2 separate regions of the Homo sapiens genome follow, and region 2 is linked to region 1. The links come from fine-mapping of genetic effects on gene expression. Tissue or cell type: whole blood. Region 1 holds a variant in brackets; the other region holds the start of a gene. All regions are shown on one strand. Distances are from middle to middle.

Region 1 (8,000 bases):
ACAGGGTTTCACCATGTTGGTCAGGCCAGTCTCGAATTCCTGACCTCGTGATCCCCCTCCCTCGGCCTCCCAAAGTGCTGGGATTACAGGCATGAGCCACCATGCCTGGCCGATTTTAATTGGTTTCTTTATCTTCAAATACTTGTTTGAGGATATATTCAATTTGCAATGTTGTGTTACACTTTGATTTTGCTTCAGGGTTAGGTTTGGGTAAGTACATTTCATTAGCTGAAATGTTCAGCTTCTCAGTTTCTTTCATCTTCTTATGGTAGCTTCATATAGCATTGGTCTGATTATTTTTTAAGTCTAGGCATTTGTTGATAGGGTTTCTAATTTATGAGTGCTTAGTTCAGACAGCATAGTGAAATGTAATTTCTTTAATAAAATGTCTTAGTGGTGATGTCATGGAGGAGGGGAGAAGAGTTGGCATGTCTTGTAATTCTCTTCTGTTTTCATAGGATCCTTAATTTTTCTTCTTACTTTCTTTTTTCTCTCTGTGGCAGACATCTGAGGGGCATCACTACTTCTATATATTAATCTTCCTTTCCCCTAGAAGCAGTAATTCCTCTAGGCTGACATGTCTGATATCTCACTTTATTTATTTATTTTTTCAGAGGGAGTTTCGCTCTTGTCTCCCAGTCTGGAGTGCAGTGGCGTGATCTTGGCTCACTGCAACCTCTACCTCCCAGGTTCCAGCAATTCTCCTGCTTCAGGCTCCCAAGTAGCTAGGATTACAGGCGGCTGCCACCATGCCCAGCTAATTTTTTGTATTTTTAGTAGAGACGGGGCTTCACCGTGTTAGCCAGGTTGGTCTCAAACTCCTGATTTCAGGTTATCCGCCCACCTCAGCCTCCCAAATTGCTGGGATTTACAGGCATGAGCCACTGCACCCAGCTTGATATCTCACTTTCAAGCCCTTTCCTGTAGGTAGTGCTGTGTACTACTAAGTCCCAGATTTGTTTTCAGTATTTTAGCACTCAGTTTCAGAGTGTCTCTGTCTGAGGGTGATTTTCTCTGTGTTCTAAGTAGTAATCTCACTTCTTTCCTTTTCTCTTCTCTTTTCCACATAGAATTTTAACTCCCCTAACTTTCTGTATTCATAGGGTTGTAGCAGCAATGGAAATGCTATTGTAATTTTATGTTTATATCTTACAAGTAATTTGAAGTTGTTACAGTTGAAGGCATGGGTCATGTGAGACTTTATTTACACTTCTTCCACCTGTTAGGTTTATTATAGTTTGAGTGTGTCCCCCCGCCAAAGTTCAGGTGCTGCCAATGTGGTAATATTAAGAGGTGGGGCCTGGCCGGGCACGGTGGCTCACATCTGTAATCCCAGCACTTTGGGAGGCCGAGGCAGGTGGATCACGAGGTAAGGAGTTCAAGCCCAGCCTGGCCAAGATGGTGAAACCCCATCTGTACTGAAAATACAAAAAATTAGCCGGGCATGGTGGTGGGTGCCTGTAATCCCAGCTACTCGGGAGGCTGAGGCAGAGAATCCCTTGAACCAGGGAGGCAGAGGTTGCAGTGAGCTGAGATCGCACCACTGCACTCCAGTCTGGGCAACAGAGCAAGACCCCATTAAAAAAAAAAAAAAGAAGTGAGGCCTTTAAGAGGTGATTAGGCCATGAGGGCCCCTCCCTCCTAAATGCAATTTTGTGCCATTTTATAAAAGGACTTGATGTTAAGGGAGTTCCTTCTCTTTTGCCCTTCCATCTTCTGTTATGTGAGTATGCAGCAAGAAGACCCTCCCTAGAGGCTAGTGCCTTGATCTTGGACTTCTCAGCCTTCATAACTGTGAAAAAATAAATTCTATTTTTTATTATTCTAAAGAATAATTCTTTTCGTTATATGTTACCCAGTCTTAGATATTCTGTTACAGTAGCACAAAGTGCACTAAGCTGTGTAGATAGAAGCTGTATTTTAGGGCTGACTGAAACTCTGAGGATTTATTTTAAGATAGAAAAAAGTAGACTTGTTGACAATTTGGATATGAGCTTTGAGAAAAAGGGAAGCGTCAAAAGTACTTCTTAAATTATTGGCTGGCCAAATGAGGAAAAGGAGGTTGTGGAGGGGAATTGAGATAGAGGAAGTGAATAAAGATTTCAGTTTGGGATATATTAACTTTGGGAAATTTTTGAGACATCCAGTTGGAGATGTTGAGTAGGCAATTGGCTCTACAAATTTATATTCAGGGATAGGTTAGGACACATGTGGTATGGATATGATACATCTTTCACTCATTTTCTATTAAGAGAATTTTGAAAATGGATGCTTCTGAGTTGAGTTGGGAAACCATCTCTTTTAACCCCTAAGCTAAGTCTTGCTACCATTAGAAAAATGTGTTTTCCAGTTATGCTTTCTTCAGAAGATTAGCAGATAACTGATGTCTTTTGAAAAGTTTAAATGGTAAATAACTTTTAAAAATATGGTGCCTGTATTGTCTGGAAACATTTAAAAACAGAGAAAAGAAAAACACTAAATTCAGATGGAATCTTGCCACATAGAAATAATCACTACTGATATTTCTGTATATATTCCACTTTTTTGTATGCATATTTACAAATCAGAGACACACTTGAAATAAAACAAAGAAATGATAGATGCTTGAGGTGATGGATATCTCAATTACCCTGATTTGATCATTACACATTGTTTGCTTGTATCATAATATCACATGTGCCCCATAAAAATGTATAACTATTATGTGTTCATGATAAAGATGCAACCATGCTATTTGCTACGGTTCTTAACTTTGCACTTTTTTTTCCCCAAAAGTCAATGCTAAAAACCAAAAACCCAAAAAACCCACCAAAAAACCAAACCAAGTCAATATGCAATCTCACATTTCTGTATAATTAAATAAGAGCCTAAGGTCTGGATGATTCTTTACTTTTAACAAGAACTCCAGGTAATTAATATGATCAACCTCAACTTCAGCTTTTTTCCTGATGACTGCATATTATTTAAAAACAAAACCAAACCCTGCTATTTGTTTCTTCTTTCAGGTTAAATTATTCCAAGTGATTCCAATTAAGCAATCCTCATGTGTATCTCTTTAAGCTGTGACCAGGAAGATCTAAGAAGGTTCTATGGCATTTTGGAACTTTTCTCCCTGACTTGATTGTATTTGAAGTTTTGCCAAAATGAAAAATCAAGACCTGTGCCTTGGGGCAGAGCTGTAGAGCTACGTCATGACGCTTGGTTTTCATTTAAGACAGGGAGGCCATTCTGGAAATCAAACTTTAATTAAGCACACAGCTGGGAGTGGATAGGGGTCAAAGCCTGGAACTTGCCCCTCCTCCTCATACTACTATCCCAGGTGAGATGTATTTTCCTGGTATGATCCCCATTGCTGGCATGCCTGAACCTTTCCCCAGATAATTTCAGAAAGTGGCCTGTGATGCATGTTCTAAGGTAGGATTTATCTAATTTCTTTTGAATTGGTGAAGATTGTATTGGGAACTAGGGTTAGACTGTTTCTAACCTCAG[G/C]AGAGTCACTTCCATACTGTTCCAGCTGATAGCAAACACTGATAACAATTTCAAAGGAGGAAAATAAATGTTTAAATGGCAGTAACGTAGAAAAGTGCCTTGGTTTCAAAACATGTTGATAACTACTGCTCCTTTGTTATTCAGTTTTGCCCTCTATAAAAGTCTGCTATTATTTCTAGCGCTGTTTCCTGAGTAGTTTTCTAGTCAAGCAATATGAGGGATTAAAATGGTGCCTGGGGCGGGGGTGGAGGGGAGGGCAGGGGTGGGGGAGTCAAGCTGAAGTTTCAGTACCCAAGTCTCATTGTACTTTGCTAGGAATACCTATGGCATTAAAGTAGGAGATTTTCTTTTCTTTTCTTTTCTTTTTTTTTGAGATGGAGTCTCGTTCTGTTGCCCAGGCTGGAGTGCAGTGGCGTGATCTGGGCTCACTGCAGCCTCCGCCTTCTGGGTTCAAGCAATTCTCCTGCCTCAGCCTCCCGAGTAGCTGGGATTACAGTTGCCCGCCACCACACCCGGCTAATTTTTGTATTTTTGGTAGACACAGTGTTTCACCATGTTGGCCAGGCTGGTGTTGAACTCCTGACCTCAGGTGATCTGCCCACCTTGGCCTCCCAAAGTGCTGGGGTGACAGGTGTGAGCCACTGCACCCAGCATGAAGTAGGAGATTTTTATCTCTTAATATTAAGTGAAGTTTTGGGTCATCAAAAAAGAGGTGTGCATATATGTGCCTGTTGTGTATACACGCAGAGTGGAGATGTTGAAGCAGCTCTAGACTGGTAGAATCCAGAGGAAGAAGAGAGTGGGGAGTAGAGAAAGGGAAAAAACAGAGAACTATTAAAACCAATAGATGCTATAAAGTGCAAAGAACCATATTTTGTTTAGGACCTCCCTGCATCTTTAACTTTGTTATTCTCCATTTCAGGTTCCTGTGTGCTTCTGTCAGAGACATAATGTAATATTCTAATGAGTTTAATTTATTATACTCATTTATTCTATTATTCATTCTCCTCTTACTATTTTTTTTTTTTTCTTGAGACAGGGTCACGCTCTCTTGCCTAGGTTGGAGTGCAATGGTGGGATCATGGCTCACTGCAGCCACCATCTCCGAGGCTCAAGTGATCCTCCCACCTCGGCCTCCCCAGCAGTTGGAGTTATAGGCATGCACCACTACGCCAGGCTAATTTTTAATTTTTTTGGTATAGATGGGGTCTCACTATGTTACCCAGGCTGGTGTTAAACTCCTGGGCTCCAGAGATCATCCTGCCTCGGCTTCCCAAAGTGTTGGGATTACAGGCATGCATCACTGAGCCCTGCTGTTCCCTTATTCCACTTCTGAAAATGTGTTTTCAGAGGACAAAGATTTGTCTTTATTCAACACTGAATTTGTAGCACCTAGTAGGTGCTCAGCTTGTTGAATGAATGAAGATTTGAATACACTAAGCACATCGCTTACATGACCTCTTAATAATCTGAGCTTTACAATGTTTTGGACTAGAAACAGGACTTTCTCCCCCTTGTTATTGTTGTTATATGTATTTAAAGACAAAAACTTTTGGGTGACTAGTTTGAATTCAGGAGTTTAGGGTATGTATGGCATTTGGAATATGATCACTATATCACTAGGTATGTGCCACCATTCCATTATTTTTATGGAGTCCATACATTTCTCTGATACATGAGCTAGGAGTTGAAAACAGTCTATTAAGTTAGTATGCAACCTATTTTAGGACTGTTAGTCTCCACAGTCTGACCACAACTCTTTAAATTTGTCTGTCATTGTCAGTCTTCATTGTCTTAAGTCTAGCCCAGAGCTGCTACTCACTGTCAGCAGAATCCCAAAGTCAAAATGAAGAGTGTTCCAGAACCCATATCAAGGCCTCCTCATGTGGGCTCCTAACAGCCCAGCTTAGTCTGTTACTGCCTTCTAAATACAGCACCCTGGAGCTTTAGAGCTTCAATACTTCTTTTAAAGAAAGGTTAAAACTTGGAACAGGGAAAGTAGATGCATTCAGAGTAGAGAAACTGATAGGATATTTTTGGATGACAATTGGTTCATAAATTTTAATCCCTCTTCTCTGTTAAATCTCTCAAAGGAAATCTCTAGGTTTTGCACTCTTTGACTCTTATCCTCTGCTTAGTTTTGTCTTTTGTAAAGTATGTCCCCTTTTAAAAAATTATAAAAGGACACATTTGCAGTCTTGTTTTAGTACTCTGAAACCAGAATTGTTAACAGTAGGTTAACATGTGCATGCAAGATTACATTCTCCTCTGTACGTTACAGATCTGAAAAAGGGAAAAGAATTAAAAGAATTATAAATAGTTATACACTACTAATGTTCATCTATTTTTAAATCTATCATTCTATTTCTAAATTTCTTGATTTAGAAAAGGTTCTAAATTGCTTGATTTAGAAATAGAAAGTTTTTATACTTGCAAGCTTTTATTTTTGTCTTTCTTAGATTTTAATTATTCTTTGCAAAACTCAGAGTCTAATTTATTTGTTGCACACTGAGAAGGTAACATGTTATACCTGTTACATTAGAGGAAGAAAAAAAAAAGATAATACCAGAGGCAGGGTCTGCTGAATTAAAAGTGAAACATCCACATATGTATACTCACACTTGGCTGCTGGTAGGGATGACTCAGGAAAACTCATTTGAGAATCAATTTTACATAATAGCAAGAGCTGTTCACAGATTTTTGACCTGATAATTCCACTTTTTATTGGAGCATTTATAATATTTGGAAAAAATTGAAATATCCAAATATCAGAAAGTGTAAATTATGTAGTCGTATAAATTATATCTCTATTGGAAATAATAATATCTAGCTATTGAATTGTAAAGATCCTGCATGGGGCAAAGCCCTTTTTTTTTTTTTTTTTTTTTTTTTTGAGATTGAGTTTTGCTTTTGTTGCCCAGGCTGTAGTGCAATGGCGCAATCCCGGCTCACTGCAACCTCCACCTCCCGGGTTCAAGTGATTCTCCTGCCTCAGCCTCCTGAGTAGCTAGGGTTATAGGCATGTGCCACCACACCTGGCTAATTTTGTATTTTTAGTAGAGACAAGGTTTTTCCATGTTGGTAAGTCTGAACTCAAACTCCCGACCTCAGGTGATCCGCCTGCCTCAGCCTCCCAAAATGCTGGGATTACAGGAGTGAGCCACTGCGCCCGGCCCTGGCAAAGCCTATTTTTAAATGTAAGTGAATAAAGGAAATATAAAGTTACACCACTCTTATTCACCTGTGGAAAAAAATAAATACATTTGATGCAAACTAGAAGGAAATACTTGTTTTAGGGTGTTAGAATTAAGCATGGTTTTATTTTTTAATGTTTTTGTTTTTGAAATGGAAAAAAATTAAAAATGCTTATCCTAGAAGATCATGTGATTTTTTAGCAACTGTCTACACAAACTACATTGATATTGCAAAACTGGCATAAGCCTTTACTAGAAAACTGAAATAACAAATGCCTCTTGGTTACACAAAATATTCCATTTTTCAACTTCATTTATTCCAGCACTGCAAATGTTTGCAACTCAGCTTTTGTGACCCTCATAGTGTACATCCACTATTTTTGAAAGCTATTCAGAAATATTCAGAATTATATGTAGTACTGTTCAAGGTATATCCAACAACACTGTGAGGAAAATGAGGGCCCAGGTCACACAACTAGTGAGGGATACTTCATCCAGGAGTATAATATGTACCCCTTATTGGCCAACTTAAGGGAGAGAAGTTTGAGGAACACCAGCTGATATTACTACTAGGGGTACCCTTGGGAGACAGGGCCTAAGACAGAAAGGTGAAAACTCAGGGAAACCAGACAAAGGACTACTGGGTAACTAGGAAGGAGACAAGTCAGGACACAAACTAGTGGATCTGAGATTGATGCCATATTAGTCATAATCCTTAGTTTTTAGGGAACAAAAAACACAATTTGGACCATATTAAGTATAAAGAGACTGTACTGACTTATGTAAGTAGGAAGTACCTAACTTCTAAGAACTCAAATTACTTCAGAATTTTCTTTTCTCTCTGTCTCCATCTACCTTTCAGATCTGCTTATTTGTGCATTTTGGTTGGCCTCTCTCCTGTTTTATTTATTTTTATTTTAAGATATTTCTGTGCTTAAATTTTGTGGGTACAAACTAGGTATATATATTTATAGAGTATATGGGGTATTTTGATACAGGCATACAATGTATGATGATAACATTAGGGTAAATGTGGTATTTGTTTCCTCAAGCATTTATCTTTTGTGTTACAAATAACCTAGTTTTACTCTTTTAGTTATTATAAAATGTACAATTAAATTATTGGCTGTACTCTGTTGTGCTATCAAATACTAGATCTTATTCATTCTTTCTAACTATTTTTTTGTACCCACAGGCATCCCCACTCCCCCAGCCCCCACCCTTCCAGACTTTGGTAACCATCCTTCTACTCCCTGTCTCCATAAGCTAAATTGTTTTAATTTTTAGTTCCCACAAATAAGTGTAAACATGTGAAGT
Region 2 (8,000 bases), 75 kb before region 1:
CTGCATACTGTATGATTCCAACTATATGACATTCTGGAAAAGGCAAAACTAAGGAGAGAGTAAAAAAAATCAGTGGTTGCCAGGAGTTTGCAGGGAGGGAAAGATGAACAGAGCGTGGAAGACTTCCAGGGCAGAAAAACTCTGCGTAATACTATAATGGTGGACACATGTCATTATACATTTGTCTAAACTCATAGAATATACAAGACCAAGTAAACTCTAGACTTTGGGTGATAATGATGTATCAACGTAGGTTCACTGACTATAACAAATGGACCACTATGATGAAAGATGTTGATGGTGGAGGAGGCTGTGCCCGTGTGAAGGCAGGGGTTACGTGGGAAATCTCTGTACTTTATGTTCAGTGTTACGTGAAGATAAAAGTGCTCTAAAAAAATAAAGTCTATTAAAAAACAAAACAAGTCGGGGGAAAAAAAGAGCCCGGCTCTTCCCCAGGGTGTGGCAAAAAGGCAATGTGTCTTCCTGAACTTGCTCAAGGAAAAAGAAGGCCACAATCACCTTTAGTGCCCAAGGACATGAACGTTAATATCATAATTAGAACTAAAAAGAGCCAGGAAGGCAATTACCAGAATTATGGTACCATCTTCCCTTCAAATTAACTAAAATAGTGAAAAATCTAACAAGGCCTTCACTTAATTATCAGAAACTTCCTAGCCTGCCACTAGCAAGGGTAATGCTTAAGTCAGCGATGTCAGGGATTGTACAGCTTAACCTTGACATAAACTACTTAAGTGTTGTTCAATGGACTCTACATTCACAGGCCCATTTCATGGAGTCACATAAATTTCTCCTCCCGCATTACATACCTGAGAGGTCAAACGTACCACCACAGAATCTGGATCCTAGGTCAGTTAACAAAACCTGCAAAATCTTGAAGGAATCTGTTTTCTGCATTTATCATTCAGCTCCTTAGTAACAACTGCCAAGTATTAGGAAACCAGGCGAACCACAAGCACTTTTTTATGTGTCTCCCTGAATATATTAGTCAGAAATTAAAGAAGAACTGAGAGGCTTCTGGTACTTGTGCAGTGTCATCTAAAACAATGTTAACTTTACTCATTAACACCACACGACATTTCACAAAGTATATTCGGTTGGATGTCAGTGTAGTTAAGGGTAAGTGCTAAGAAAGCAAGCCACCACCTTATACGCTCTTCTAGCCAAGTACTCAGAAGGCCTCTGATCTTAAACACCGGGAATGAACACATTTGTTCCTGCAAAGCCAACATGTTTAAGCACAATTTACAAACCTAGTTATAATACGGTCTAAGTGTCAAACAGATAACCCTTTCATAGTCTCTGCATCCCTCATTCCTCCCTCCCAAACAAAACCAGCCTGAATTGCCCACTGCATGCAAAAGGCTATTTTGCTTCATGCAAGTCTTACTACTTTCCATGGCTCACAGTCTCCAAGAGACTAACCCTCTCATTTACTAACTCAAACCTTAAACTGCCTCCAACAACTTCCCTCTCTTCTTAACCCCCACTCAGCAAAGACATCTCTGTCAGCGAAGAAAGCTGCATAGGAGGCTTGGAAGTGGCTGCCTCTGCAAATTCCCCGCCCCCCACCTTCCTACCAAAAGGGCACTTCAAGAACTTTACCATCTCACATGAAAGTTGCTCCAATTCCATTCTCCAAAATTGGATTTGAGCATGAAAAGTTTCTTTTTACAATCAACTGCTATTTAGGCTACTGATCACACTTAACTTGCAACTTGCTTTCTACACAAATTAAGAATGCCATCTAGTTCTCATGTATGAGCCAGCACTGGGGGTGTACACACGCGTGCGCACACATATACACAGCCTCCTCCACCGAAGGCATTTCCTGGCACAAGGGGCATCCTAAACTTGCTCCATTTCCAAGGTGTGACCCTCTATCCCCAAATTCATCCCTTTTTCTTCATTTCAAAGTTCAGCCTAATCCGCTATTTTGCAGCAGCTATGGCCATTTATCCCCCTTGATTTCTTGACATCATCTTCTCTGCTTCTGGCTGGGGAACTTTTGATTTGAATACAGTTGTCTGTGTGGGGATCCTTCATGTTAATGATGTGGTGAGCTGGCAGGGATGATAGGTGAGAGTACACAGTGTACTTTTTCTAGTTACGTTTCGCCTCATCACTGCTATAGGGGCCTTTCTAAACGCCTGCCACACCAGGAGAGAGACCTACAGACCCAAGCTTACCCGTTTCTGGGCAGCCTCCAGGGGACAGGTAGAAACAGAACAGATGGCCTGTTCTCCAGTATCTAGACTCAGAAGCAAGATACTTCTAACCACTCCACGAATGAAGCAAACACACGTACCTCTGGCTCAGCCAGGGAGTCACAGTCACTACCCTTCCCCTGGTTTCGGCCCCAGCCCTGTCCAGGCGTGGATGCTGCACTCTCCTCGCTGTAAACCGTCCACCCTCCCAACCCAAAGCAAAGAGCTTCCAACAGAGGTGGGAGCATTAGCGCCGTACCCGCCCTTCCCTCTCGATCCCGGCCAGAAAACTCCACTTCCCGGATTCCCGGCCACTCTCTCCCGCCCCCTCCCCGGGCGATCCAGCTAGCGCAGTCCAGATGCCAGCTTAGTGCCCAGTCCAGCTGCGAACCCCCACACTCCGAGCCAGGACCCAGTAAGAGATCCCAGCTTCCTCCCTCTTCCAGGACTGGGGTTCCCCAGATTCTGGACGCACCCCTCAAACATGCTAGGGCTGAAAAAAGTCCTACCCCGCCCCCCAGCCACGCCGCCAGCCTCCAGCCCAGCCCCGGAGGGGCCTCCTCTCCAGAGGCTAAAAGGGACCATGAATGGTTGCCACAGTAGCCTTCCCCCGCACCGCGCAAGGGTCCTCAGACCCCCGAGGAGGACAGACCCGCGTGGCCCCGAAGGGATACCTCCCTCTCCTCCCGGAAGCCAGCAGGTCCCCGCAGGGAGTGTGCTCTCAGAGGGTCCCCGGGAATCTGGGGAAGACTTGGGGGGTGGCTGGATTCGGGTGCAGCCCCTCCCGGGGCGGGCGGAGGTCGGCGCTGCGGCGCGTCCCCGGGGGGCACTCACGATGGTCACGCTGGCTTTGCGCAGGTCGCGGTTCTCCTCCTGCAGTGCCTTGCACTTCAGTTTGTAGGTCTCCAGCTCTATCTTCAGCACCTTGTTCTCTTGCTGCAGCGAGGCCAGGCGGTTGGTGAGCTCCTCCAGGCGGAACGGCGAGATGACAATGCCCCCCGACTTCCCACCGCCGCCGCCTCCCCCGCCGCCACCGCCGCCGCCCGAGGTCGACGAGCAGGACGACTGCATGGCGGCCGAGCTGCTGCTGTTGCCCCCCGCCCCGTCCGTGTCGCTCTCGCTGGCGCTGTCCGCCATGGCCGCGGCGGGCTGGGGAAAGGAGGAGGAGCAGCAGGGAGGCGGCGGCGACGAAGGCCGGGCTGCGAATGAGTGGGCGCCGGGCGAGCACAGGGGAGCGCCGAGCTGAGCGCCTGGCACCAGGGCGCAGACTCGGAGCGGCGGCGAGAGAAAGAGAGGGCGCTTCCCGCTGCCAAGGGACCTCCTCTGCCAGAGAACAGAGACCCCGCCCGGGCTTGGGCAGTATTGCACTGGGGCTCGCTCCAGCCGGGCTGGGCGCGCTCCCTAGGCCGCCCAGCAAAGCTGGCTGAAAGCTCCGGGACCCGCCCGCCGCCGTCTGGTGACCACGGGCGGGCTGGGAACGCGCAGGCACTGCGGGTGCGGGAAAGCCAAGGACTGCCCCCGCACCACCAGCTCGCCAGCCACACGTGTTCCAAGGGAGGGCCTCCGAGCCCCCTGATCTAAGCCCACGGCCGCCCAGCCTCTTCCGGGCTCGCGCCCGCCCCGAGAAAAAGGAAACCTGATGCCCCACCAGCCTCGCAGGTGCCGGGGACACGTGGAAAGGTCAGCCGGGCTCCGGCACCCATCCTCTACCGTGTTGTGGCCCCATCTTCCGCCGACTGTGTGTGCGCGTGTCTCCCTCTATCTGTTTCACACATACACGCAGTTTTATATTCTCAAAAGCAAGGTGTTTTTGACTAGGAAGGCTTGGATAAACCTAAGAGAACAAAGTTCCTCTACAAGAGGCCGAGGAGGATGAAACAACAGCAGCCACAGGTTAACCTTGTTAAGTAAGAATTTGCAGGAGAGACACACATCTCCTTTAATAACCTCATAAACCACACTGCGCTCAATTGTTTAAACAAGGTGCAACTGTTTTTTTCTTTTTCTCTTTGCATTTTGCAAACATTTCCAGCACATGTCTCGTAGTAGGATTAAGACAGTAACATTTACCTAATGAAGAAAAAAAAAAAGGAAGGCGAAACACTTTTAGTAGAAGATTGAAACACCTCTTTAAGTGCCAATTTTCCAAAGTAACTGCGGACATAACATTATGCTATACAAATAGTAATGATTGAGTGGGAGTGCAACATCACCCGTCTTTGCTATCCTCTTGCTCACTCCTAGAAAACTTTAGCATGTAAAAATAAAACAGTAATTACTGTAATGCGGTCTAATTCATGGTTCTAGCTTTGCAGTTTAAGAAATTAAAAATCAAAAACTTTTATTCCCCCTTCCTCTTCCCAAAGAAAGGCTTGCAGGAAATTGGCCCAGCAGGTGAGATGATTCTAAACACTTTGCCCTGTTGACACAAAACAGCTTTCACTTATGTATAAAAATTGGAAAGTGAAACTGACCAGACTAGTTTTATTACCCACGCTTAGTTAACATTACAACAAACACATGGTAATAGAAAATAGAAAAAAAAGTGTAATTTTTTTTTCTGTTGGGTTGAACTTTCTGAAAGATTTCTAAAGTGTTAGGAAGAAAGAAGAATGATTCTTATTCCCACTCCCTCATTATCTTTAAACCTAAATTTGATCTCATGATTAAACGGTGATTCAATGGCTCTTGGAAACTGGCACCTCAGAATAAACTCGAAAACACCAAGTGTTCCAAATGACATCATCTTTCACCAAGATGGCTGCTTTTAGCAAACAGCTTAAATGCCAACAGCAACTAAACCCCAGTTTCTCCCAGGTATTTTTTAGCTTAGTGCTGGAGGGCTTCTGAACTCTGTCACTGTTTGTATAGCAGGAGGGAGGAAATGCTTGGCTTTGCTCTTGAGAAACATATAGGCAATCTAAATCATTCTGTTACAAGTGATCCAGTTTAATTTGCACTGAAACTTAGTTCTCTCACTTTTTTGGGATCTAGTACATGAGACAATGAGTTAAATTGGAAACGGATTCTGGAAAGCTCACTTGAGGGTTGAAATGGAAGAGTAAAGCTAGCAGGGAGAAGCACCACAGGGGGAAACAGATTTAACAACATTCTTTCCCCTTTATTCAGCACTGTGATCGAATCTTAAGAGTAGGTCTGGCTGCCATACCTCACAAGTTTCTATTGCTCCCTATTCCATATTATCTTAAAGCTTCCACTTTTAGAGCTTATTGCAACAGGAACATTCCTTCCAGGCAGAGCAGGGGGCAAATTAACTCTCTCTTAGCGTCACCACAAAACTAACCGCCTTGGAAAGGCGGACTCACACTGCTTCAAGTCAGCAGAGGGGTGGAGTTTGAAGCGCCTGGTTTTCTTAAAGGGCCCAAGTCATGGTTAAGCTTAAGAATGTAGTGGCCTTCAGTGGAATTTGGAGGAAATTTGCATTTTGACATGGGACTTGTAGGTAGTAATCGTGGTTAGAAGACTTTAGGGAGAAAGCCATCTTCTAAAGCTTCCCTGCTGATACAGATGGGAATAAACTGGAGAATATTTTTTCACCGCGGTTTTTATTGTTATTGCAAAGCAGAAGCGTGTCTAATTTTCTACTTCTTGTAAAAGTGATTTCCCTTATAAACAGATCATTTATCACAACACTGGTTCCGTAATAGCATTACAATGGAAACACCAGTTACAAAACCAATAATATCATTATAAAATTCCTTCTCAGCTTTCTAGGGGAAATGAATCACAAGAACAAATGGTAGTATGTGCTGCCTGGAGGAAGAAGGGACAGATTTAGGTAATCACCTCCTTTGGAGAAATAATGAAATTTAGCTTTGCCCTCAATTTAAGCTGCAAAAACACATGAACAAAGGAAAAGAATACCTTGTAGTCTAACTGCAAGGCGCAACATCAAGATTTTTATTTGTCTAGTGCCATTTTTGCAAATCACTTACTCTATGGCCTTGGAACTTTAGTGTTTACAACAATAAAATAAAATAATAATGGCATAAATCATAGAGCAATTTTGTTAATTTTTAATATATATAAACAAATTGCTGTACATATCCAGTTACATTAATGTCAGATCTGAGTAATTTTATTCAAATTCTAAATGGATTTAGTTGTTGCAGGACCCACCATTACAGTTTTGAAAAAAATTAGGGTGAGCCAAGTATGAGCGGGATGTCACAGTGTCAGAAGTTGGATAGAAATATAGAAGAATGTGTCCATGTAGCCCTATCATTTCTCCTCCTTCTTTTTTTTTTTTAAGAGGCTAGGTCTCTCTATGTTGACCAGTCTCGTCTTGAATTCCTGGCTTTGAACTCCTGGCCTCAAGTGATCCTCCTGCCTTGGATTCCCAAAGTGTTGGGATGACCGGCGAGAGCCACTGTGCCCAGCCTAGGGCTATCATTTCTTGAAAAGTAGTTGATAGTTTCTTTATCTAATTACACCTTTAATTTAGAAGCTTTGTCTAGGTCTAGCAAGGCATTTCTGAACACTGACATTTGAGACTGGGTAATTTTTTGTTGTAGGGAGCTGTCCTGTGCATTGTAGGATGTTTAGCAGCCTCCCTAGCCTTTACCTAGTAGATTCCAGTAGTATGCCAGCCAAAAAATGTCTTCAGACATTGCCAAATATCCCCTGGGCAGCAAAATTACCTCCAGTTTGGAACCACTGAACTAGTAAAACAAAAGACAGCCCCATTTTGGAGTGGTTACACACTGATTAGATACCACTGAGTCACCAACAGAATTTCCTTCTCATTTTATCTTCTCAGTGTCAATTAGACAAGAGATCCTGGGCCCAAACAACCATATCCACACTTTATACTATTGCTGTCTTTAGCCACTCTATTTCTTTTTTTTTTTTTTCTTTTTTCTTTTTGAAGACCAAATTTCGCTCTATCACCCAGGCTGGAGTGCAATGGCACAATCTCTGCTCACTGCAACCTCCACCTCCTGGGTTCAAGCGATTCTCCTGCCTCAGCCTCCCGAGTAGCTGGGACTACAGGCACCAGCCACCACACCCAGCTAGTTTTTTGTATTTTCAGTAGAGACCAGGTTTCACCATGTTGGCCAGGCTTGTCTGAAACTCCTGACCTCAGGTGATCCACCCACCTCAGCCTCCCAAAGTAGGGGGATTACAGGCATGAGCCACCATGCCCGGCCCAGCCACTCTATTTCTACAACATGTTTTTTCAATATTTTACACTTTTTAACATTAAACTAGCCTTGCACATGCAACATCTCAACTTGTCAAGAGATCATGACTACAAGATTAATTACATATCTCATCCCTATGCTCCTGTTTTTATTCACTCATTATTGCTTCACAGGAACCAAAGCCATTAATACAGATGACAGTCTAAAGAAATAAGTCATCAGCTAAAGTAAATCATTTGAGAAGTAAGAATATCAGGCTGGGGGCAGTGGCTCATGCCTGTAATCCCAGCAATTTGGGAGGCTGAAGCAGGCGGATCACCTGAGGTCAGGAGTTTGAGACCAGCCTGACCAACATGGTGAAACCCCATCTCTACTAAAAATACAAAATTAGCTGGGCATGGTGGCACATGCCTGTAATCCCAGCTACTCGGGAGGCTGAGGCAGGACAATTGCTTGAACCCAGGAGGTGGAGGTTGCAGTGAGCCGAGAACACGTCACTGCACTCCAGCCTGGGCAACAAATGTGAAATTCAGTCTCGAAAAAAAAAAAAACAAAACACATATGATTTATGTGTCTGGAGCTTTGGCAGCCAGTAACATCTAAAACTTTG

The links. PIP is the estimated chance that this variant, and not a neighbour inherited with it, causes the effect.
Region 2: it holds the start of CCDC6, and the variant in region 1 is fine-mapped to the expression of CCDC6 in whole blood (INTERVAL, PIP 0.98).

What each region holds. Positions count from the first base shown.
Region 1 is chr10:59,978,495-59,986,494 of GRCh38, forward strand. No RefSeq gene overlaps it. Among named protein-coding and RNA genes, the nearest start is that of LINC01553, 22 kb to the left of the region's middle. The variant G/C (reference allele first, on the strand shown) is at 3,490.
Region 2 is chr10:59,903,063-59,911,062 of GRCh38, forward strand. CCDC6 (coiled-coil domain containing 6) reads right to left here and starts at 3,494. Exons shown (of 9, transcript NM_005436.5): 1 at 3,060-3,494. The coding sequence starts at 3,362. RefSeq lists enhancers at 2,207-2,436, 5,129-5,922 and silencers at 2,957-3,236, 3,267-3,606, 3,789-4,083.